Linked DNA regions of Homo sapiens. The protein of the gene in region 3 interacts with the protein of the main gene of each other region in a pairwise test. Each region holds a gene or a part of one and is shown on either strand. Other genes may lie near its edges.

Region 1 (3,494 bases), on a different chromosome or scaffold from region 3:
CCTGTTTTTGTTTTTGAGATGGGATCTCACTCTGTCACCCAAGCTGGAGGCAGCTGTGCAATCATGGCTCACTGCCGCCTCGACCTCCTGGGCTCAAGTGATCCTCCCACCTCAGCCTCCCTAGTAGCTGGGACCACAGGCATGCGCCACCATGCCCAGTTGGGAAGACACTGTTCCTCTGAGAAACAGTTACGGGCCCTATTGCCAGTCACCGCTGACCACACAGCCCTAAAGAGTCCTAGGGCCTGGGGGGCCTCTGTGTCCAAGGCTAAGGGTCCCTGTGTCATCAACCGCTAGGCCTAGGTCGGAGAGCACTTGAACTGTCTTGGGGCCTGATGGGCCCAGGAAGTTTCCAGCCCTCTCCAGCTGCCTTACCACAGCTCAGGGGTGTGGGCAGCAGCCGTTTCCATGGCTGAGGCAAGGCTCCTGGCCCACCTCATAGTTCAGAGGCCCTCTTTTGGGACCCACTCCCCCTCACCCCCATGTAAACAAGCTACCACTGCAAGTTCATATTTTATTTCCAATAGGTTTGGAGCTTTGTTGATTTTTGCATTTTTGTAAAAAAGGAAAAAGTTTTCACTTAATTCATTGAAAGCCCTTTCGTGCTGAGCCCAAGGGGGAGCCTGGGCCAGGACCAGACCCTCTCAGCCCTCTTGTTCCTACCGCAGACACCCGGTGCTGGGGGTGCGGCTGCTCCCCTCCGCCCACTCTGCCCTCCCGCCCCTGCTGCATCTCTCTCTGTACAGAACAATTTTTAAAATGGAAGCTAAGACACAATATACACTGGACAGGCACACACACACGCACACAGGCGTCCGCCCAGAACAGGGCGGGACACCAGCTGCACTCAGAGAGCACCAAGGAATGCAAACGGAGCCCCTCCGGGTAGGAGGGCAGGGCCTGGGCCCCCTTGGTCCTCAGTCCTCAGTCCGCACTCCTCCCCGCCAATTGCCCTGCTAGCTGCCAGAGAGGGGAGGGGGCAGGGAGAGCTGGGGGCAGCTGGTTGGGGGCGGTGGTCATAGAATGAGTACCAGCCTGGTAGGCGGCCCTGGGGCCAGGGAGGCTCTTGTGGGGAGTCCGGGGAGGGGCGGCGGGGGGAAGGACTGAGGGTGGACCCTCAGGAACCTGAGGGCTGGAACTCCTGGGCCTTGCCCCTCAAGGAGCTTCAAGGGCCCAGGTGTCAGGAGTGGGGCTGGCCCTGCAGCACTGGCCTCCAGCCCTTGCTGTTCTCCCCAAGACTAAATTAACATTTGGTAAACTTAGGAGCTAAGCCAGCTGAGACCCCCAGCACTCCCCCTCGGGCCTCCCTGAGGCCCTCACAGCTGGGGGCCAGGCCTGCTCTGGGGGACCCACGTCTTCCACACTCCACCCTTGCCCTGGCAAGGAGGTAGGGGGAGCAGGGCCTGCCCTGAGGGCTTCTCCCTTCCCCTTAGTGCCTTCCAGTCCCACCCTTCCCTGCTCAGGCCCCAGGAAGAAGTTAAAAATAGTTAGTTCCTACATTAAAAAAGAGACAGAACCAGATTCTCTGCCAAAAGGCCAGTGGGAGAAGAGGGGATGTCATCTCTGCAGTGGGAAGGGCAGGGAGTGGGTAGGGGAGGACTGCAAAATAGTTTCTTCTTTTAAAAAGTGCTTGGTAAGTCTTTTAAAGTGTGTGTCTATATCTATGTACAGATATACACACAGACACTGTCCACACCACCACGCATACCTGCACACATACGGAAATGTATACATATACATACATACGGAAATGTATACATATACATAATCATATACATATACATACATACATACACATATATATATATATTCATATATATATATATACTTTAAAAAGTCCTAGGTGAGAAGATCTGGGCCAGGCTGGGCCAGGCCTGCAGGGTCACGACTGGAGGGTGTGGGCCCGGCCAGGCTGGCAGATGGGGCACTCGCTGCCCTCAGCGCAGAGCTCACACAGCGCAGCGTGTTGGCACGGCAGCACTGCCCGCTTCTGTTCCTGACACTTAAGGCATTTCACCGACTGCATGTGGAACACGGCCTGCAGGGAAAGGGGCATCGTGGTCACCATCCATGGGTCTGGCCCCAAGTTGAGCGAGGAGTTCCCTTGATCCTCACTGCAGCCCCTTGGGATGGGAAAACTGAGGTACCGAGCTCAACAGTGTGCTCCCAGACCCCTGTTGGCAGGTGAGAGAGCAGGCTGAGTCCACCTCTGCATGGGGCATGGCCAGGCTGCCACAAGACCCACCCCTCAGAGAGGCTTCGCCCAGTCTCATTTGACCTTGTAATCCCCAGATGGGGAAAATGAGGCCCAGAAAGGGCTGGGACATGCCCAGGGCCACACCCGGGGGCTTGGCTGCCCGAGAACAGAGGAAAGACAGCTCTTCCCACCATGCCACGTTGGCCCCGGGGACCCAGCAGGAGACCTGGGAAGGCAGGGGTAGCCCTGGGGTCCTGGGCCTCACTGGAAGGCCCGCTGCTCCATGGAGGGTGTACAGGAGGACGCATTTGGGGCCCAGGCATTTGTGAGAAGCTTGGTCAGGGCCGCCCTCAGGGGTGCTGGGGGTGGCACCGACACCCCTCACCCCCAGCCTTTTCACCTTCCCCAGTGCACTCTCCTCACCCATTCCCAGCAGGCCGGCCTTTTGAGTGCTGGCCCAGTGCTGGGCAGAGGCTCTCAGGAGGGTGGCCATCCCTGGAGCAGCCTGGACCAGGTCAGAGTCCAAGAGCTGGCTGAGGCCACCGTGCATCCCACCCAGTGCTCCCCGACCTGGGCTGACCTTGTCCACTTGTTCCAGGTGGGCCCGCAGTTGTTTCTGGAGGGAGTAGAGGGTGGAGAGTGAGAGCGCCTCCAGGTCGGAGAAGGCGGGCAGGGCCTGGGGCTCAGGCCCCGCGTGTAGCCGCTCCAGCTCCTCCTGGAGCTTCTTCACCTGCACCTCCAGTGCATCCCGCTGCTCCCGGGCCAGCTCGCACTCGGCGCCCGCCGCACTGGCCCGCTCACCAGCCTCCTCCGCCTCTTTCTTCCAGGCATCACAAGCCTGTGGGGCCAGCATACAGTCTCATCACAATGGCCCTGCCCTGCCCCTGTCCCCAGAGAGCATCATCTTTTGGGGGCCACTCTGGCTGCGAGGCCTGGTGGGAAGCTGGGTTGGCTCTCTGGGAGGAGGGCAAGGAGGAGGCTGATGCTGTCTGCACAGAGGTTTCAGAACCTGCAGGAGACTCTCCCCTCTGTGGCCAGGGAAAGGGACCTGGGCCTAGCACAGCAGGGACACAGGGTAGAGCTGGGATTCTGGCCAGCACCCATAGGGTAGCCGGCTGCAGCTGGACAGGGGGCCCATTTCAGAACCCAGAACCTTGGACTTGAAACCCTGGAGAGGCGAGGCTACTGGGAGGAGGCAGGTGATCCTGGGACAGACTACAAGCAGCTCACAGAGAGAATTTGAAGCCTGCAACAACAGTAACCACCCAGGGTCCTGACTGGCAAAGCGAGTCCTCCC
Region 2 (4,058 bases), on a different chromosome or scaffold from region 3:
CCCATAAGCAGGGGTCAGACCTTTATAATGTAAAAATGCCTACAATCTATCTTTATATATTATGTGCTCCTCTCCTAGAGTCCGAGAAAACTGTCTTAACTAGGCTCCCACCTTCAGAACTGTCACACAATCAGTGTTCCTTAAGTAAATGAATATATCTTATTCTTCTTTTCAAATGTGAAACCAAGAGCTATTCAACAAAATTTACTGATGGTGAAAATTTTCCTGCTTCTTCATACAATTTTTACTTTTTCTCTATCTGGTCATCAAGGACACAGTTGATCTTATCTGGACTACAGGGGAAAATGTGTCAAAAATATGATAAATTTTGTGAAGACTTGTACACAAATTTTCTATTCTGATTGTATAAAGCATTATAAGGAGATAAAGGTCAGAAAATAAGATAGTTTTGCAGACATGGTTACCCAAGGTTATTAGCTAAGCAGTGGTAAAGTCACAGTCAAGACCCAACTTAACTCCCAATCCCATGTGCTTTCTATTACAATACAGTGTTACAGGAATACTTGTTCTTGTTTCATTTATTAGTCTAAAAAACATTTTTTGGGAAAATTTTAGGTTAAAAAAAACTTCATAGAAAAGACAAATTACACATGCTTTCTTTTAAAAATTCTTCTGGGCCATCACATCTCTGGTGTCACCAAGACTCAAGACATTAAAACATTACCTTAAACAAAACTGCAGTTGCAAGCACTAGACATAAAGCAGAATACATATATATGTGATCCTTTGACAAGCTTCAATGTGACTGGTTACATTCATTCTTGTCATCTTTCCAGGGAGACAACTCAAGCTTAGAAGCCTTACCCAAAACCCACAGTTGTTTTCCTGCACCACCCCTCTCCTTCCATTAGTTTCCCCTCCTCCCATAGCATTCTGGGTCCTTACCAATCTCTACCTTTGGCACTGGGATGCTTTCCCCACCCCAGACCTTCACGTGACTCATTTTCATCCTTGCAGCCCATAGGGTCTTACTAACTAAAGTGGCCTCTCCCAGTTACTTCTTTCTAAGCACATACTACAATTTATAATTAACCTTTTTACTTATTTTTCTAGTTAATTGTCTTTCCCATCAGGATATCCCATGAAGGCTCTCTCCTCACCATTGTCTCTACAACACCTCCTTTTCCATCATTACCAAAACCGCACTGGAAATACTGTCATTCCTACCACCTCCCACCAACTGTAAGTTCATCAAGGCTAAGTGCTGTCTTACTCATGTTTCCCCAGCACTTGGTAAAGTCCCTGGCACTATCCTATGAAGTCAGTAAAAATCTGTAAAATAAATGAGCTTACTAAACAGGGATGACTACTACTAAGGAAGCAGAGAACAACAACACGTTAACATTTAATAGTACAGGGCAATGTTGCAGGTTGTACACACAAAAATTGGAGTGGTACAATCCACGGAAAAGATTAGTAAGGACAAAATTCCATTCAGAGAGATGAGGTGCTTCTGCCTCGGCAGAGAGAGGGAAGAAAAGCAATCAAGCAAGCTAACTTTTATTCTACTCCGGACCAACAGAGCAAATTGCCCCCCAAAATTATTATTTTAGAACGCCGCAATTTATTCAGCATACTGGACTACTTATTAGACTCCAAGTACCAACATGCCACGATTATTTTGCATTTTCTAAGGTACAACAGATAAGGAGCTGATGGGTGCCTCTGAAACCTGACAGAACAAACATTGGAAGCAGAAATAATAATGGCCAATATTTGTATTTGTAAAAGACTTGAAAACATACAGAAAAATCTCGGAGTGGTCATGGAGACTAAACTAAACACACCCATAAATATGTAATCATAGGTTAGGACCCACCAAGGCACAGAAATGATCATACGACTGCCAAAAGAGGCCACACTCTACATCCCTCTTCCCATCCTCTTCTACTCAAAGAGTCAGCCTTATTCTCGGTAGCACAATCCTCTCAAAGAAATACAGAAAAGACGAAAGAACGGCTTAAACGTAAAAAAAAAAAAAGCAAAAACCAAACAACCAACCGGCTCCGCAATCCCTAATCAGAAAGCTCTAGACGCCTTTCGAAGCCAACTGTCATACCTTTTAGGAGCCCAGAAGATGTTAACTCCAAAAATAAGTCTCTGGCCCCAACACACCTCTCTGGATTATTCAGAAAAACCCGGGTTTACCAGTTCGGAGATCTGCACTCCACTCAAAAAAGGATCTCCCGGCAGGGACAAGCAATCAATCCCTCAGGGGGCAGTGGCGCTCCAACCACCCGGCCAGGACACAGGCAACGGCGACAGGGCACAGCCCTTCCAGGGACCCGCCAGGGCCCTCCGGGATCTCAGTAAGGCTCAGAGCAAAACGACCCAGCGGTGGCCAAAGTCGGGCAGTGGCGCAGGGGGGCCAGCGGTCGAGCTTCCGAGCTGGGCCTTCCCGGCCCGGGGGCGCGGCGAGTCACGGAGGTGGCGCCTTTCAGTTTGGACCCGGCTGCTTACAGAGGATCCAGGGCCTCCTTCCCTGACTTCCCCGCCCCGCCGCCCTCAGCCAGCCAGTCAGCCCCTCACCTGGCAGAAGCTCCGGCAGTAGTTCAAAGATGAGACCTCCGACACCTCTTGCTCCCTCAGCTCTGTCTCCAGCTGCCACAGACACGGCCGCAGTCCCGAGGCTCCCGGCGCTGGAGATACGGGGCGATGACCCCGAACCATGGACTCAGTCTCGACTCCATCTCCGGCTCCCGCTACCGCCGGAGCCTCAGCCCCAGCCCCGGCGACAGCGGCGGCGTCTCCCTTTCCGTCCGCCATCTTCCCACGGCCCACCAGCGCGTAGGCAACCAAGCCACGTGACTCAGCCCTGGCCCTGCCCCCGGCCGCCCGCGCACTGTGACGCACTCCTTAGCGACGCGGGCGCCCGCCTGATTCCGTCACTCGGACTCCGGGTGCTCTCAGTGGCCTACGCATCGCCAGTCCTGACAACAGCCTAGCAACAACTGGCTAGAGGCTATGCCCACCTAGACCCCTTTGAGGTCATGGGATCACGGAGCCAGAAATGCCTGTAGAGCAATCTAGATTTGAGGGGGATGACATTTGAACTGCGATCTGAAGGGACAAGAGGAAGGTAGCCCTGAAAGGAACATAGCGAAAAGCATCCCTGGTAGAAGGAAAATAAGCAAAGATTGTGAGGCCGAAATGAAGAGTAACATCAAGGGAACTTGGTTTATGATACAGACGGCATTACAAGTCAGTGGGCGAAAGGACAGACTCTTCAATAAATGGCGATGAGACATTTTTTCCAAAAGGGAAATAAATGATTAGATTTCTACCTCAAACCATTTCCAAAAATAAGGCCGAGATGGATTAAAGACCTGCAAACATTTTTCAGAAAATAAAAATAGCTTTATAATGTCAAAAATAGGGAAGAATTTTTTTTTTTTTTTTTAGACGGAGTCTCACCCTTGTTGCCCAGGCTGGAGTGCAACAGTGCTATCTCAGCTCACCGCAACCTCCGCCTCCTTGGTTCAAACATTCTCCTGCCTCAGCTTCCGGAGCAGCTGGGATTACATGCATGCGCCACCATACCTGGCTAATTTTGTATTTTTAGTAGAGATGGGGTTTCTCCATGTTGGTCAGGCTGGTCTCGAACTCCTGACCTCAGGTGATCCGCCCGCCTCAGCCTCCCAAAGTGCTGGGATTAGAGGCGTGAGCCACCGCGCCCGGCTAAGAATTTCTTAATAAGACCGGAAAAGCACAAACCATAAGGGAAAATATTTAGATTTGACTGTATTAAAATGTGTTACTTCCGTATAACAAGTTGAAAAAGCACACAAAGACAAGCCACAGACTAAATGATATTCCCCATATATATAACCATTGTTTATTGTTGTTGTTTTTTGAGACAGGGTCTCACTCTGTCACCCAGCCTGGAGTGCAGTGGCACGATCTAGGCTCACTGCAACCTCTGCCTCTCAGGTTTAAGTGATTCTCGTGCTTCAGCCTCCCAAAGTAGCTGGCACTATAAGCGTCCGCCACCATGCCTGGCTAATGTTTGTATTTTTAGTAGAGGCGGGGTTTCACTG
Region 3 (2,185 bases):
TACTGTTTTCTACCTCTGTCACTTCATTCCAGACAGCTGGGCACTCTGGGTTTCCTTGGCAACATCTGGATCTAAGGGTGCTCTTACCCTTTTTGTCCCAAGACAGTTGGGAAACACCACCCCCTTTGGTTGCTTAGCAACTGTCACCTGCTGATTCCTTCCCAAAATCCCCTGAGAAATGAGTAAGCAGGTTGAAAGCTGGGCCTAAGGGCTGGGCCAGGGGACAGGTCAGATGCTTGCCTGGGGGTGGGTGAACGGGGCACACGTCTGGCCCCCCTATATCACCCCGGGGTAACTTTACGCAGCTCTGCTTTCTTTCAGGACCTCAGACTCCCCAGATGAGATCTGGCTGGGTGACCTGTGAGGCCCGCCTAACTCAGCTCTTCTGTTACTCAGTGATAGGCACCTGCTGGTTATTAATTCACTGCTTGGGAGGGAAGGGGCTTTCTGGGAACTTTTCAGGGTGGAGAGAGTATAGGACAAAGCTGCCCTTCCAAAGCCTCCAATTTAGTTGGAAAGACAGGTCCCAGATTTGTGGCTCTGATAGTGAGATTCTTGTTCCTTGGTTAGACTTCCTGGCGCAGGTAAGCCTGCGGAAGACTGAGACAGGTGAAAAGACTTTTCTGCATGAATGTGCTGGCAGCAGAGAGGTGTGGAGGTGGAACTATGCGACACATTTCTGACTGGAGAGTCTCTAAGAAGAGTGGTAGGAGCTAGGTGAGGATAAGTAATTTTGGGCAGACTAGACAAGCCTTGAATGCTAAGGTGAGGCGCTTGTATTTTTTTTTGTTATTTCATGGAAACTCCTGGAAGCCTTTTCATAGCTGAGGGGTTAAGTGAAGTTTTAGGAAGATCACTCTAGTTTTAGGGTGGAAGATGAGGACTGGGAGAGGGTTCAGACCAGGAACTGCTAAGAAGCTCTTGCAGCTTCTGGAGGGAGCTGTGATGTGGACACGCTGAAATCGGTGGGGAGGAAGCGGAAGATTCAAGGGACCTCAAGAGACAGAAGAGTCAGGACTGGATGACTCCCATTCATTCACAAACGTTTACTGTGTGCCTACTATGTGTCAGGTTCCTGTGCTGTACGAGGGAGAAGGTTCCCAGGCTGCGGATGATGTATTCAGGATGCTGAGGGCTTACCTGTGGGGGTATCACTTTGAAGGAACTGGATTAAAGTAGTGTAAGTGATGGTGGGGTGAGGGTGCGGAGGTCTGATGAGAGGGCAGCAGCAGACTTGTTTAGGGCCTGTTTGAAACTAGCCTAGGAGAGGAAACCTTCAAAGCACTGTAGGCGTGATTGGTCGGGGAAAGCTGGGGCAGGGAGAGGGCCCTAAGAAGCAGGCAGTAAGGGGACCAGCCACGCTGATCTAGGTAGATTAGGCGAGACTGGGCAGCTGCGGCGTACCTGGAGGCTGTCACGCCGGTCCTGGCCCCTAGGGCAGCCGGGGGATGCTGATGGCCCCCTCCCAGAGCCGCAGGGCCGGGTAGAGCGGCTCCTGGAACGTGGCGCGGAAGGTATGCAGGTGGCTCATGCCGCCCGTCACGTCGTAGAAGGCGAGGACGCCGGCCTCGTAGTCCAGGAAGACGCCGAGCCGGTCGAGGTCGTCGCGGGGCCGCAGGCGGCTGCGCTGGCCGTCGTGGAAGGCCCAGTACTCAAGGTCGTAGCGCTTGAGGCACCAGGACTGGCGGTTGCAGCCCAGGCGGGCGGCGGCCGAGGCCCCGCGGCGCCGAAGGGAGGCGTAGGCCGCGCCCACCCACCAGCCGGCGCCCGCCTCCTGCACGTCAACCTCCCAGTAGTGGCGGCCGGTGGCGAAGCAGTCACGAGCCAGCACTTGCCAGAGCGCGTCGAACCGCAGCACGGGCACGGGCCCCAGGCTGCCCAGCAGGCCGCAGCGCACCGTCAGGCGATCGGCGGACAGGCGCAGGCGCGCGTGCATCGTGTCAGGATCCAGCGTGGGCGTGCGCGCGTCTGCAGGGGGCGAGACAAGGGACGCACCTGGTGGGCGGGGCCAGCGCGGCGCCCCGCCCCCGGGAACCCACCAACGCACGTGCAAATCACAAAATGCGAAGCGCGGAAATGGCCCAAGGAAGGGGTGACAGACCCCTTTAAACCGCGACTGCCCCTGGGGCGGGGTCTTGGGGAAAGGGGAAGAAGAGATCACTCTGCTGCACATCCCTTATACTGT
Region 4 (2,178 bases), on a different chromosome or scaffold from region 3:
GAGCCCCTATACAAAGATTTTCCAGTTTTAACAAATTTAAGACCCTCTCAAACTAACAGGCTTAGTGATGTAATTATGGTTAGTAGAGGTACACTTGTGAATAAAGAGGGTGGGTGGGTATAGATGTTGCTAACAGCAACACAAAGCTTTTGCATATTGCATACTATTAAACATGCTGTACATACTTTTTGGGTTTATTTGGAAAGGAATGCAAAGATGAAGGTCTGTTTTGTGTACTTTTAAGACTTTGGTTATTTTACTTTTTGGAAAAGAATAAACCAAGAATTGATTGGGCACATCATTTCAAGAAGTCCCCTCTCCTCCACATTTGTTTTGCCAATTTGCACATTAAATGACTCTTCCCTCAAATGTGTACTATGGGGTAAAAGGGGTAGGGTTTAAAGATGTAGACAGTTGGGTTTTTTAAGGGCCCTTTTTCAATAACTGGAACACTCTATAACAAAGGATACTTATTTAAATAGATGACATTGACTATTTTTGTTTTTATTAAAAGGAAGCTTACATGCCTACCAATATTTAATCTTTTATGATTGCCTTTTTATAACTTTTTATATTCTCAGCAGAGTGCTTTACCAATTGAAGTAAAATGTGGCAGGCTGGAGTTATTGAAGCAGAGTGGCAGTCTTCAGTTTGCAGAGTAGGGGTCTGTCTTTTAAACTCTGAGTGCAAACTTCAGAGTTCTTGCCTTGGCTGCAGTTTTTTTCCTTCAAGAATGCAGTACTAACATTTATTTGAGTGGAGTTACTGAACAGTAACATAGCTGTGATTTTTGGTATTTGAAACACTGGTTTTAAATATTTTGACTTGTTGAGGGTATGTTTTATATAGCAAGACATTATATAGCAGTAAAAAATGGTGTTTTATCTTCTATATAATTCCTGTTTTTATTATTAACAAAACAGTCCTAAATAGCAGCCCTCAATTGTGAAAAAATTTACTTTAAACTACATTAGGTTGTGAATGCAGGTTTTATCAGAACTATGTTTTTGTTCAGTTTATCTGTTCATATGGATAAATATTGGTTGGGATGACTTGGTGTCTAATGTGTAGTGCTACACACCTAACTTATGGGGCCAAAATAGCATGTCCTAATGCTTGCTGCTGATTTAAACACATTAAAGGTACTTTGCAGGAAATCCTTGCACCATGGGATTAATATCCAATTGCTGCTTGTACACTCATTCATTACTAAAAGTTTTGAGAAATTTTTTTTTCCAGTAATGAGCTTAAGAAATTTGTGGAAAATAACTCACCTGGCATCTTACATCTGAAATAAGGAATGATATAAGGTTTTTTTTTCTCACAGAAGATGAAGCACACAGGAACCTAATGGGCCAACTGGGATGAGGTGACTATTCTGAGATGACTATTCAGTGGCTAACTTGGGTTAGGAAGAAAATAATTAGGTATTTTCTCCAAATGTTCACTGGTACTCTGCCACTTTATTTCTCTCATCTGTTACACAAAGAACCACCAGGAAAGCAAATCAGTTTGGTTGGTAACTCTGTAATTCCTAACTATCACTGGTTTGGTTCTGGACTAAAACTACATTGACAGATTGAATTTGCCTAATATGATGACTGTTTTTAATATGGATCTGTATGTGTTCTATTCAGCACAAGGAAATAAAATTTTAGTTGAGGATTCAGCACTAAAATCCTTGAGATCACTTCTCATTTCATAAGTGACATGCTTAATGCAAATAATATATGGGAATACTTTGGGTCAAAGTTTTCCTGCATTACCTTGGATGCCAAAGAGGTAGTTTGGTGGCCAAAAAGTATCTTTTTTTAAGAAGCTGTTGTAGCTAGTCTGCATGAACATGAGAAGTTTCCATAAAGGAAAAAAAGCAGTGCTCAGTGGCCATTTGTTACTGTTAATCTGTATCTAAAAGGTACATACTTTCTTCAGAGAGGGAGAAAATGGCATAGCCTCAGCACAATTTAAAAAAAAAAAAAAGCTTTTTAACCAGTAGGAATTTTTGAATAGTTTCAAAATAATATTGATAATACCACACTTCTGGTCAACTTAATAAAACACTCTAAATTTCCTAAAAAGGTAGAAAAGCTATAAAATATCTAAACCAAATATTATTGGTTATACTCGGGTGGATCTTTTATTATGAACTTTAAATGTAGGGTTCTGATTTTTGGCTTC
Region 5 (3,500 bases), on a different chromosome or scaffold from region 3:
CTGGATTATGACTATGTTCAAGAAATACTATTTTCAAGCACTAATCATTTAGATAAAACTTTTTTTACACATTTATGGCATCAAGGAGTATGACTGTTTATAACATTTTACCTATAAAGCTGAACTGTTTTATATACTCTTTATGGAAACATGGCCATAAATTAAAAGATGCAACTGTTTTGAATATTTTACTGGTGGTCCTCTGTTTTCCTGCCAGCAGTGCAGCTGTTTCAGGTTTCTCAGGATAACATATAAAAAGCTGTATGCACACTGCAAGTTTATGCTCAAATTGCCAAGCCAGATATGGTATGACTCAACTTTCCCAGAAGCAAGCTGTACCAAAATGTGATGAATCAAAACAGTTAGTTGCACAGTGGTTTGTATTACAGCTATGAAAACCAATTCTCATTTATGATGTTTGGCTTTTCAAGGTTGACAAACATTCTACTGTGGTGCTTGAATTTTACCATAAGTGAACATCTATTGAAGCTAAGACTATGCTTTTCTTTTGAGGATCTGAGGAAAGGAAAGGGTGATACATTATCATCTGGTGTGCGGATAAAAATTAGCTGGAAACTTGTATCAGGAATGGAACATTTCATTTCCAAGTTACCTATAAAAATATTACTCACTTATTATTTGTATGATAGTTATTGAATTCCCTGTGAAGCCAGGTTAATTTTTAGACCTTTCTGAGGTAACTTAACATTTACTTCATTTCTCATGCATCAGAATCTTAACAGTTGATACTTTATTGTGTCTTGGAAAGTAATAAGCAGATAACTTTATGGCCATGGGGTAGGTGTGGTGAATCCCTATTTCAATCCTATGCGACCTAAGGTTCTATCAAGAGTTTAACAACGACTATTTTTCTTTTTTTTTTTTAAACAGGGTCTCACTCTGTTGCCCAGGCTGGAGTGCAGTGGTGCGATCTCCGCTCACTGCAACCTCTGCCTCATGGACTGAAGTGATTCTCTTGCCTCCCAAGTAGCTGGATTACAGGCACCTGCCACTGTGCCTGGCTACTTTTTCTATTTTTAGTAGAGACGGGGTTTCACCATGTTGGCCAGGCTGGTCTGAAACTCCTGTCCTCAGGTGATCCACCTGCCTCGGCTTCCCAGAGTGCTGGGCTCACAGGTGTGCGCCACCACACCCAGACAACAATGACTAATTAATAATAGTAGTCTCTAAAGTGGGATGTGTCCCATGAGGATATGTAAGATACAGTATATGGAGAAAATATTAAAACATTCATTCATTAATTTATTTAGAGATGGAGTCTCGCTGTGTCACCCAGGCTGGAGTGCAGTGGCGAAATCTCGGCTCACTGCAACCTCCACCTCCTGGGTTCAAGTGATTCTCCTGCCTCATCCTCCTGGGTAGCTGGGATTACAGGCATGTGCCACCACGCCCAGCCAAGTTTTTGTATTTTTAGTAGAGATGGGGTTTTGCCATATTGGCCAGGCTGGTCTTGAACTTCTGACTTCAGATGATCCGCCCACCTTGGCCTTCCAAAGTGCTGGGTTACAGGTGTGAGCCACTGTACCCAGCCAGAACTTTTATTTAAATATTTTTATTTCATCCTTTTTCTATTTATATTTTTATATTACACTGACTATATTAGTATCTTATGTATATAATTATATATAGTAACATATAGTACATTAGTATTCTACATAAAACATATCTGAGATATGTTTTATGGCTATAAAATACTATCAAAAATGTTTTTGTTTTTGTTCAATAAATATTCTCTTCTTCCTTCCGCTTTCCCCTTTCGCCCTTGGCAGAGAAGCAAATAATTGAGTTAAAACCTTGATTTGTGGCAATGTGAATAAATTATAGCTAATTCCAGGAACTTAGCTGCATCCTACCTTGACCCATTTTTTCTACTGGACTCTTATATTGCTCTATATGTTTTAGCTACACAGGTTTATTAAACATGGATACAGATGAAAAACAGACTTGTTATGTTAGAAGTTATAAGTTGCTCATGCATTAAGATTTTGACACACAGGAAGTTTGAATGAATGAGTGAAAAAGGTTCCAAGTTATTAAAATGTTCTGGTACCTGATTTATTCATTTGCCATACCAGTAATTCTAAGGTGGGTGAAGCTCCTTTACTTCCTGAAGAAACAAGTTAGTTTCTTAAACTAAGCATTAAAAGAAAGCTGGAATTATTTGTTTCCAGAAGTGTTAGTAGTCATGCTAAGTTGCCCTTCTTTGGCTAGATTGTCCAATGTTTTTTAGGCCTGTTTTGTCTATTTTTGTCAAGATATAAATGTTTAATTGCTTTAAAAAAACTGTGTGGTTGCAGAAAAAAATTGTACTGTTATATTGTTGAGATCAATGAGACTTTTCTGTATTTACTTTTTCAGACATTATTTTGAACTCAGGCTCAGTCTCAGAGATTTCTTCAACATGTAATTTTCTAATGTTTCCTTTCCTGCAAGGAATGAGACAATATATTCTTGGAATATTAAAGTACTTTTGAAGTAACTCATACGTTTTCTCCCCTCTTCCATTTGTTTAGCTATTGAGGGTTTGCTTTAAAACAAATTTATGTAGAAATATCAGTACTATAATAGTATTGTGATACTGTGTATTTCTTAAGCATATGCCAGGAAGGAGAGCATTAGTTAGGTGTCCAAAAAACAGCCAACAAAACAAATCAGCTCTGAAAATCGTGAAGCAGTGAATATTTTAGAATTATTTTTGAAACCTCTTTCAGAACTGTTTTTAGACCCCGTGGTAATTTGCTATGTAATTTAATACTAGTTTAGGCACTCCATGTACAGTTGGTATGTTTCCTTTTGAAAGATAATAATCTATTTATAATAAAAGTCTGAATATTTCAATCTCGGAATTCCTCTTTAAAACTTGAATCAGTTTTACTATTGCTTTTTAAAATGTTACCTATTTATATTTGCTTTGTATATCAATGCTACACTTCTTGTTTTGTTTTAGGTATTTAAACCATGTCAGAGCTGCCTCACCACAGGACCTTGCTGGAGGCTATACTTCTTCTCTTGCTTGTCACAGAGCACTACAGGATGCATTCAGTGGGCTTTTCTGGCAGCCCAGTTAACCATTTATAAGATTTGGACCTTGGAGCTGAACCAGGGAGCTAGCAAAAGTAAAGCAGACTTATAAAATTATAGCTATGTGCAGCTGCACAACACAGTCCTTCCACTAGCAGCTGTGTTAAAGTATTTATAAGGAGAAAATTTCAGAACTAAGTTGAGTAATATAGGGGATATATATTTGTGAAAAATAATTTTTACTTATATTTTTCAGAGGATTTGACACGATAAGCCTCATCTGATGGAAGAGAGGAATAAATAATTCACCTATATGTGTTTGAGGTTGTGACAGACTTATAAAATCTTTTTAAAAAATAAAGCTATAATTTATATTAAGTTCTGTGGTTTTTCTCTTATTACAGTGTTTTACTTGAACACATTTTAAATACCATTTTGATTACAACATTTACTGTTAA
Region 6 (3,500 bases), on a different chromosome or scaffold from region 3:
TTAGGCTCCAGGCCTCAGGCACAAGAGATAGAGAATCATATCTGAGCCTTTTGCCCTTCCCTTAGCTCCAAACAAGGGCAGGGGTTGAAATGTGAGTGGGAGAGAAGGGATCATCAGACACACTGTTTAGCACCTGAACCACATCTCTTCCTAAACCAGAAATCCCAAGAGCAGAAAGAAATAGGAGCAAAGTGAGAGAGGGGTTGTGCTTCCATCACATTAAATAGGAGACTTCGTGGGGTTGGGCAAGGGTTGTTTCACATCAGGACATCAATGACTCTGGTCAAGGTGAGGGGTTATAATTAGCAAAGCTTCATGTGCTCTCCCTTTCTTTATTCATCCTGCTTCCGTTTCGGCTTTTTGGGGTTCCGGGACCGACTCTTGGCCTTGCAAAGAGGGCATATAGGTGCATTCCGGTGAATTTGCTGGTGACATGACAAGCAGGCCTGGTGAGGGACACAGGAAAAAGAAAGTTAGTAGTCAGATTCTTCCAGGCAACAACTTAGACTTCTGATTCCCCAGGGGCCCAGAAAGCAAAGTGATTTCCCATCAGAAGAGAGCAATAATCAGTGAGTAGACTCAAGTATTCTTGGATGCCATGGAAGATGGGAAGGAAGGACATAACCCAGTTCAGAGAATGGTGTTGAGAAAAAGTATACAAAACTAGAAAGTAAGGCAAAATGAGAACTACACATCTTTTCGTCATTATAATGAAGCATTGTCTAACAGGCCCACTTAAGGACTATTTAATTTTCTAGAACAGGGGTCAACAAACATTTTCTGTAAAGGCCAGGACAGCAAATACTTTAGACTTTTTACATCATATAAACTTGCTGCAACTACTCAATTCTGTTTTGCATGAAAGAAGTGATAGACAATAGCTTGCATGCATGTTGTTTGCAATAGCTTGCAAACACAGACATGCATGTGGGCCAATAAAACTTTAACGAAAACAGGGAACAGATTAGATTTGACCTGTAGGCTGTAATTTGATGACCCCTGCTCTAGAAGAATGTCTCTTTGTTTGACTATTTACCAATTGATTAGGACCCAGGCTCTGTGATGTTACACTGATAAGCTGCAAATGGCTTTTGCCCAGTAGAGATGCAAATTACTTCTGTTTGGAAGAAAAAGTAACTATAAAGTTACAGTTTTATTGTCCTGTGGGATGTAAACCAGTTTTGCATCTAACTTTGCAAATTTGTTTCAGCCTTCCTCTCCTTTCTTGACTATATAGATATTTGTTCCAAATGCTCCTGGAACCAGCTTTATAATCCTGCTGGTTCCCTCATTTATGATACATGCTCATTACATCTTTGTGTAAGAGTCATTTCTAACTTTTAGAATTGCACTCTAGCAGGGCCTGAAAATCTCCCTGCATTCTAACACCTCTGGGAACATGGGGCAACAAAACCTGTGCTGTGTGTGTCCAACACAGCACACCCATGTCACCCCTTCCACTGTGTCACAAGCAAAGGCCATTAAAAGAAGGCCCAGCATAAATAAAGCCAAAGACCCAGAACTAGCCTTCCACGGCCCTTCCATGGGAGGATACTTTGCTTCCTCCACAACCATTACCCAGCTCACTTACCTTCATAGGTGGGGGCTGCTGCCTGAAGGTGGCCGTCTGCCGAGTATCCTGCTTCCTAGCCACTTGGAGCTGTTGGGCGGCAGCGGCTGCAGCGGCCAGGGACTCAGGGATGGGGGGCTCCTGAGGTTCTGTCTGCCATTCTGCTTTCTGCTTCTCAAAGTAACTTTGGAGATGAGAGACACTGGCTAGATCATTCTGAAAGCAATGAGAACCTTGCTCCTCTTAAAGACTCCATGCCATACAACCAAGGGTTGAGCTGTGGCTCATTCTAGAAGGTCCCCACACCTTCCCAAGCACAAGGCTATTGTCCCTGGGTACTAGGCCCAATGTCTGATGAGAAGGGTAATCCTCTTTGTCCTTAGCTCTGATAGGCCAAGAAGACCAAGAAATCTTAGGGCTAGCAAGATCCTTAAAGGGTATTCAGTCCTATCTGCTATCTCATGCTCTTTTGAGTATTCCTATTAAGTGTCCTAAGGCCTCTGGTGACATATCTCTAAGAGTAGGAAGCTCACAAACTCCACAGACACCTTGCTCTACCTTTAGGAAATGATTTCCTCTACCAGGTCAAATTCTGTCTCTCTGCAAGGCAAGCCTAGTTCTTAACTCTGAGCCAGGAGATGAAGTAAGTCCCAGGCCACTTCCTGAAGACCAGGAAAGCTCAGTCTTTTTTGTTTTTAGAGGTTTCTAGATATCGCCTTCTAGACCCTGACTTGGGAAATGATCTCTTAAGAGTTATAGACATAGTCTTGTATTGTCAATATCACACAAAGAATTTAAAAAGCCACCTAGTAGTTGTTCTAATTCATCTAGTAATTCATCCAGTTTAATAATCCTCCTTCTGTTTTAACAAGCTGGCACAGAGACTTGCCCAAGATCACACAGTGAGTAAGCCACTGAAAGGCCTGGGACTAAAACTAGGCACTCTGACTTTCAGGCTAGGCTTTGTGTATGTATACCTGCCCGTGTGTGTGTAGGTATGTAAGTATGTATGTGGGTCGGAGGGAGGGTATGTTGTAGGGACTGGGGGCAGGTAGCTTACTCCAAGGAAAGCTTCTCCTCTTCTTCACACAAGTCAGGGAGCCTCTGCAGGCCCAGAGTCATGCGCAGGGCATCCACATGTTCTTTCAGTGGCTTATACTCATCATGCAGCCTCCTTGTAGACTCTAGCAGCTTGTTTAGGTCATTCTCAGATTGTTTGATAGTGTTTTCCATCTGGAACATAGAGTGGGATAGGCACAGAGAAAAGATCCTAAGGTTCTCAGAGAGGATCTATAGCTGAGTGAATAATAGCACAAGCTCCAGAACTTGTTCAGTCTATATTCAAGTCCTTGATCTCCCATGCCCTCTCCATGTAACTCTGGTCAAGTCTCAGTTTCTTCATCGGTATAATGGTGATATTCTAGTGCTTAACTCATGCAATCTTGGTGAAGATGTAATGATAGGATTCATATAAAGCACTCAGTAAATGGGCTAAATTAATATTTACTGCTAAATAAATGGTATTGTTCAAATATAGTATCTTAGAGCTGGAATGTCCTTCAGAGCTCATTTAGTCCACCTTACTCCCATTTTATAGAAAACTGAGGCTCAAAGAGAAAAAGGGACTTTCCTGGGGAAATACTTCTTAGTATCAAATCCTGCATAAAGACTTAGGGCTTCCGCCTCCCAGGCCAGCAGTCTTTTCTCCTAGATCAGTGATTCTCAAAATGTGGCCAAGGGATCAGCAGCATCAGCATCACCTGGGAACTCAGAAATGCATATTCTTAGGTTCACCTCAGACATACAAAATCAGAAAATCAGGGGTGGAGTCTAGCAATATGTGTCTTAGGCTCTCAAAGTGGCTTTGATGCATGCTCAAGTTTGAGATCCACTGGCTTATATTCTTAGCCCTTCTGGCAAATATCTTCCT
Region 7 (3,500 bases), on a different chromosome or scaffold from region 3:
GCAGTTCTAAACTAAATTTGATTCTTAAACACACCACTTATCAAACACACACGCATGAAACTCCTCCAGATTTAAGGTGGGAGCAAAGATTTGGTTATTTCAAATATGCCACACTACCCATAGAGCTAAAAGACAAAAGGGTCATCTAAATAAGAGAGCAGACAGTAAATGTCCTTAAGCACACGCATGCACACACGTACAAAGTTTTCACAGATCATTCTTGCACTAGATTTTTTTACTCATTAAATTCCTAAAAATATCTATTTTTTTTCTACACTAGTAGAAAAAAAGAGTACAAGAAAATAAGGAACTTATTCATAAGTCAAGTCATTAGGAATGCCTGACACCTCCTTAAGCCACTCAATGCTCCACAATTGTTTCAATAGGGATATACAGTATCTTTTAAAAGTAACAAGGTAAAAATAAACACATTCCATGGTAGGAGTCAACATAAAAACTGTTAAGGCTATGTGTGTGTATACGATTCCAATTATAAAAAATGTCCAGCAGAGGCAAATCCATAAAGACAGAAAACAGACTGATGGTTGCCAAGGGCTGGGGGTTGGGGCAAATGGGGAATGGCTCCTAATGGGCACAGGATTTCTCTATTGTGGTGATAAAAATGTCCTAGTATTAATTGTGTTGATGGTATGCAACTCTGAATAAAAAACCATTGAATTGTATTCTTTAAATAGCTGAATTGTATGATATGTAAATTATATCTCAATAAAAGTTACAAAAAATTATATCTCTGCCATTTACCAAGGATATGACCTTAGCCATGTCATTTACCCTCTGAATCTCAATTTCCTCATATGTAAAATAGGGACAGCACATTCCTCAGAAGAGCACACGAAGGACTATATTATGAATATAATGACTTAGTAGAGTGGGTATCACGTAGGGTTCAATAAAGAGTAATGTTTATAGATCAAATAGACTTCATAGTATGAAGTAACTATCGAATAGTTACTTCATAGTAGTCTTAAAAAATAATAGCCAGTCACACGAAAAGCCTAACATATACAAATGGTGAGGACAACTATCAATAGTGCCCTACTAACAACGAATAGATGTTTTCCATACTGATATCTGACACCAAGTCAAAACTCACTAAAGACCTATGCAGAGAGCTGAAAACAAGTTATAACAATGTAGCAGCCTAATGAAATAGAAGTCTACTCTTCTGAGAAATACCAGGACATATTCAAAAACCCAGCAAGCATTAAGAACTTATATAAATCTTTCAGAACTAAGCTACTGGAACAGAGAGAGACGCCAAAACCAAATTGGTCTACTTCACTGGCCTGATGTGCTAATGCCACAAGAATCTTTTAAAAAATATTTAACTGTAATTGACTCACCATTTTCACTCTGGCCATTGCCCTCCTCTAAATTCAAAGTCTGTTTGCCTGAGCTATGTCCCCGCCTTCCAACACAGTATCCTGAAGTAGCAGGAACCATTGTAGAGGGACCTCCATGATTCTGTATCAGAGAGACACACACACACTGCAGTTCTCACTATATAGTCAGAAAAAAAAGCTAGAGGGATGTTTTAAAAGGCAGTTTAAAAACTAGCCTAACAATGTGAACTGCTATTGTAAGAGAACTCTGTAATTAAATGTTTTCCATGCAGTTTAGAATACAAAAAATATGAAGTAAAAATCAAGAAAATAGAAAATATTAACCCATACTCTATAGGCAAGATTATCAAGTCTACCTCTATTCCCTTCTCTAGGAACAGCTGGGAGAAAATGTCTCTTTTCTCATTTTCATTTTCCAGAAAAGGCTTTGTTTGGTTATTTGTACAAAATCTAAAATTTATCCACATTGCCTTTACTTCAAAAAAATAAATGAAAAAAGTAAACAGCTTTTTGAGTAAAGCATTGATCCACTCACAGGTAAAGTTGGATAAGCAGTCTCATCCCCTTCTTCAACTTCATAAAAAGTAATAGTTTCTTCCAAGCCCCTGGGCATCTGTCCATTCCCTGGGGTAAATCCATACTGGGACTCCTTATTCACACAACTCATCTGGCGGTGACTACGTCTAAATGAACTTAAGTGGTTCAAATAATAAAAAAGTAAAAATGATGAAATATAGTAACTTGTTCCTAATTTCTAAATAACAGTTCAAATATCTCAAAGTTGACACTTTTTAAAACATTAATGTTCAGCAATGAAATCAGACTTACCAATTTTCTCTGACTTTCAACACAATACTTACCGAGATCTATAAGAGAAGTTATCATAGCTCTGGCAGCACCTTTTACCTGGGCCTGGGTAAAAATCAACTTTAGGGCCCGGCATGTTGTGCCTGTTTATAAACCGAGATGAATTCCTAAGAATAAAGAGAAAGGAAACTAGAACTCTCTATTCACTAATACCTAAGTAGTCAGTCTCTGTAGTTAAATAGAACTAATCTGTCTTTCTAAAAACATTCAACTAGAAAGAGCTCTGCTCTCTGCAATACTGGCATTAGGGCTAACTATTATTAATGAAATACAGTCTGTATGTCACAGAGACCCTCATCTTGATGGCATTCTATCTTCTTGGATCTCTTCAATTGCTTCATATTTCCCTAGACCATGAAAATACAAATCTGTCAATGTCTTACCTGGGCATCCCATATCCCCGACCTTGTCTCGGAGATGGATGCTGAGGATGAAAATGTTCATTAGACATAACATTGCCAGCTGTCTGTGAGTAGTGCATTGGAGGATCGTGCCCATAATGCATACTGTGCTGCAGCCTGGGTGGGAGGAGGGGGTCTCCCTTGCCGTAAGCCATAGTCATGTAAACTTCTTTCCCTCGAATTTTCTTGAACATCTTCTTCTGTTGCTTTATGTCCATCTCTGATATAACTTTCAGGCAAACAAAGAGGTAGCAAATAAGCTTCATAATCAAAGCAAAAGGCCCAGTGTACTGTCACCACCACACTGCCTTAAACTTTCCAATGCTTCCCCTAGGAACAAACCAAATAAACATAGGGAGGGAATTTTTGTATTTTTGAAGGATATACTAGATCTTTTATTTGGAAGGACAAAACCAGCAGGTAATTTCTGTATCAATGGGTATATCTCGGCACTATCCCCAGCATGGGCAGGTTAGTATAGGTCATCAAAACACTGAGTCATCCATGGCCAGGCACGGTGGCTCACGCCTGTAATCCCAGCACTTTGGAAGGCCGAGGTGGGTGGATCACTTGAGGTCAGGAGTTCAAGGACAGCCTAGTTAACATGGTGAAACCGTCTCTACTGAAAATGCAAGAATTAGCCAGGCGTGGTAACGTGCGCCTGTAATCCCAGCTACTCAGAAGGCTGAGGCAGGAGAATTGCTTGAGCCCGAAAGGTGGAGGTTGCAATGAGCCAAGATCGCACAACTGCACTCCAGCCTGGGCGACAGAGTGAGACTGTCTCAAAAAAAAAAAAAAAAAAAAACAAAACACGCCTGTAATCCCAGCACTTTGGGAGGCCGAGGCGGGCAGATCACGAGGTCAGGAG

The links.
Region 1: the proteins of TRIM14 (region 3) and UNK interact in a two-hybrid assay, tested with the Homo sapiens proteins (one large-scale study listed by BioGRID).
Region 2: the proteins of TRIM14 (region 3) and RLF interact in a two-hybrid assay, tested with the Homo sapiens proteins (one large-scale study listed by BioGRID).
Region 4: the proteins of TRIM14 (region 3) and IVNS1ABP interact in a two-hybrid assay, tested with the Homo sapiens proteins (one large-scale study listed by BioGRID).
Region 5: the proteins of TRIM14 (region 3) and MNAT1 interact in a two-hybrid assay, tested with the Homo sapiens proteins (one large-scale study listed by BioGRID).
Region 6: the proteins of TRIM14 (region 3) and ZC4H2 interact in a two-hybrid assay, tested with the Homo sapiens proteins (one large-scale study listed by BioGRID).
Region 7: the proteins of TRIM14 (region 3) and ALG13 interact in a two-hybrid assay, tested with the Homo sapiens proteins (one large-scale study listed by BioGRID).

Annotation. Positions count from the first base shown.
Region 1 is NC_000017.11:75,822,806-75,826,299, reverse strand, and holds the end of UNK (RING finger protein unkempt homolog), read right to left. Parts: intron 3,036-3,494; coding exon 2,778-3,035; intron 2,039-2,777; coding exon 1,883-2,038; 3' UTR 501-1,882; downstream 1-500. UniProt on the Homo sapiens protein: Sequence-specific RNA-binding protein which plays an important role in the establishment and maintenance of the early morphology of cortical neurons during embryonic development.
Region 2 is NC_000001.11:40,160,129-40,164,186, reverse strand, and holds the start of RLF (zinc finger protein Rlf), read right to left. Parts: upstream 2,801-4,058; 5' UTR 2,788-2,800; coding exon 2,551-2,787; intron 1-2,550. UniProt on the Homo sapiens protein: May be involved in transcriptional regulation.
Region 3 is NC_000009.12:98,086,038-98,088,222, forward strand, and holds part of TRIM14 (tripartite motif-containing protein 14), read right to left. Parts: intron 1,969-2,185; coding exon 1,433-1,968; 3' UTR 1-1,432.
Region 4 is NC_000001.11:185,295,888-185,298,065, reverse strand, and holds the end of IVNS1ABP (influenza virus NS1A-binding protein), read left to right. Parts: coding exon 1-31; 3' UTR 32-1,678; downstream 1,679-2,178. UniProt on the Homo sapiens protein: Involved in many cell functions, including pre-mRNA splicing, the aryl hydrocarbon receptor (AHR) pathway, F-actin organization and protein ubiquitination.
Region 5 is NC_000014.9:60,965,261-60,968,760, forward strand, and holds part of MNAT1 (CDK-activating kinase assembly factor MAT1), read left to right. Parts: intron 1-2,968; coding exon 2,969-3,089; 3' UTR 3,090-3,298; coding exon of another isoform or gene 3,299-3,326; 3' UTR 3,327-3,500.
Region 6 is NC_000023.11:64,917,451-64,920,950, forward strand, and holds part of ZC4H2 (zinc finger C4H2 domain-containing protein), read right to left. Parts: intron 2,804-3,500; coding exon 2,631-2,803; intron 1,755-2,630; coding exon 1,592-1,754; intron 447-1,591; coding exon 333-446; coding exon of another isoform or gene 314-332; 3' UTR 1-313. UniProt on the Homo sapiens protein: Plays a role in interneurons differentiation. Involved in neuronal development and in neuromuscular junction formation.
Region 7 is NC_000023.11:111,726,170-111,729,669, reverse strand, and holds part of ALG13 (UDP-N-acetylglucosamine transferase subunit ALG13), read right to left. Parts: intron 2,862-3,500; coding exon 2,615-2,861; intron 2,339-2,614; coding exon 2,225-2,338; intron 2,057-2,224; coding exon 1,900-2,056; intron 1,486-1,899; coding exon 1,365-1,485; intron 1-1,364. UniProt on the Homo sapiens protein: Catalytic subunit of the UDP-N-acetylglucosamine transferase complex that operates in the biosynthetic pathway of dolichol-linked oligosaccharides, the glycan precursors employed in protein asparagine (N)-glycosylation.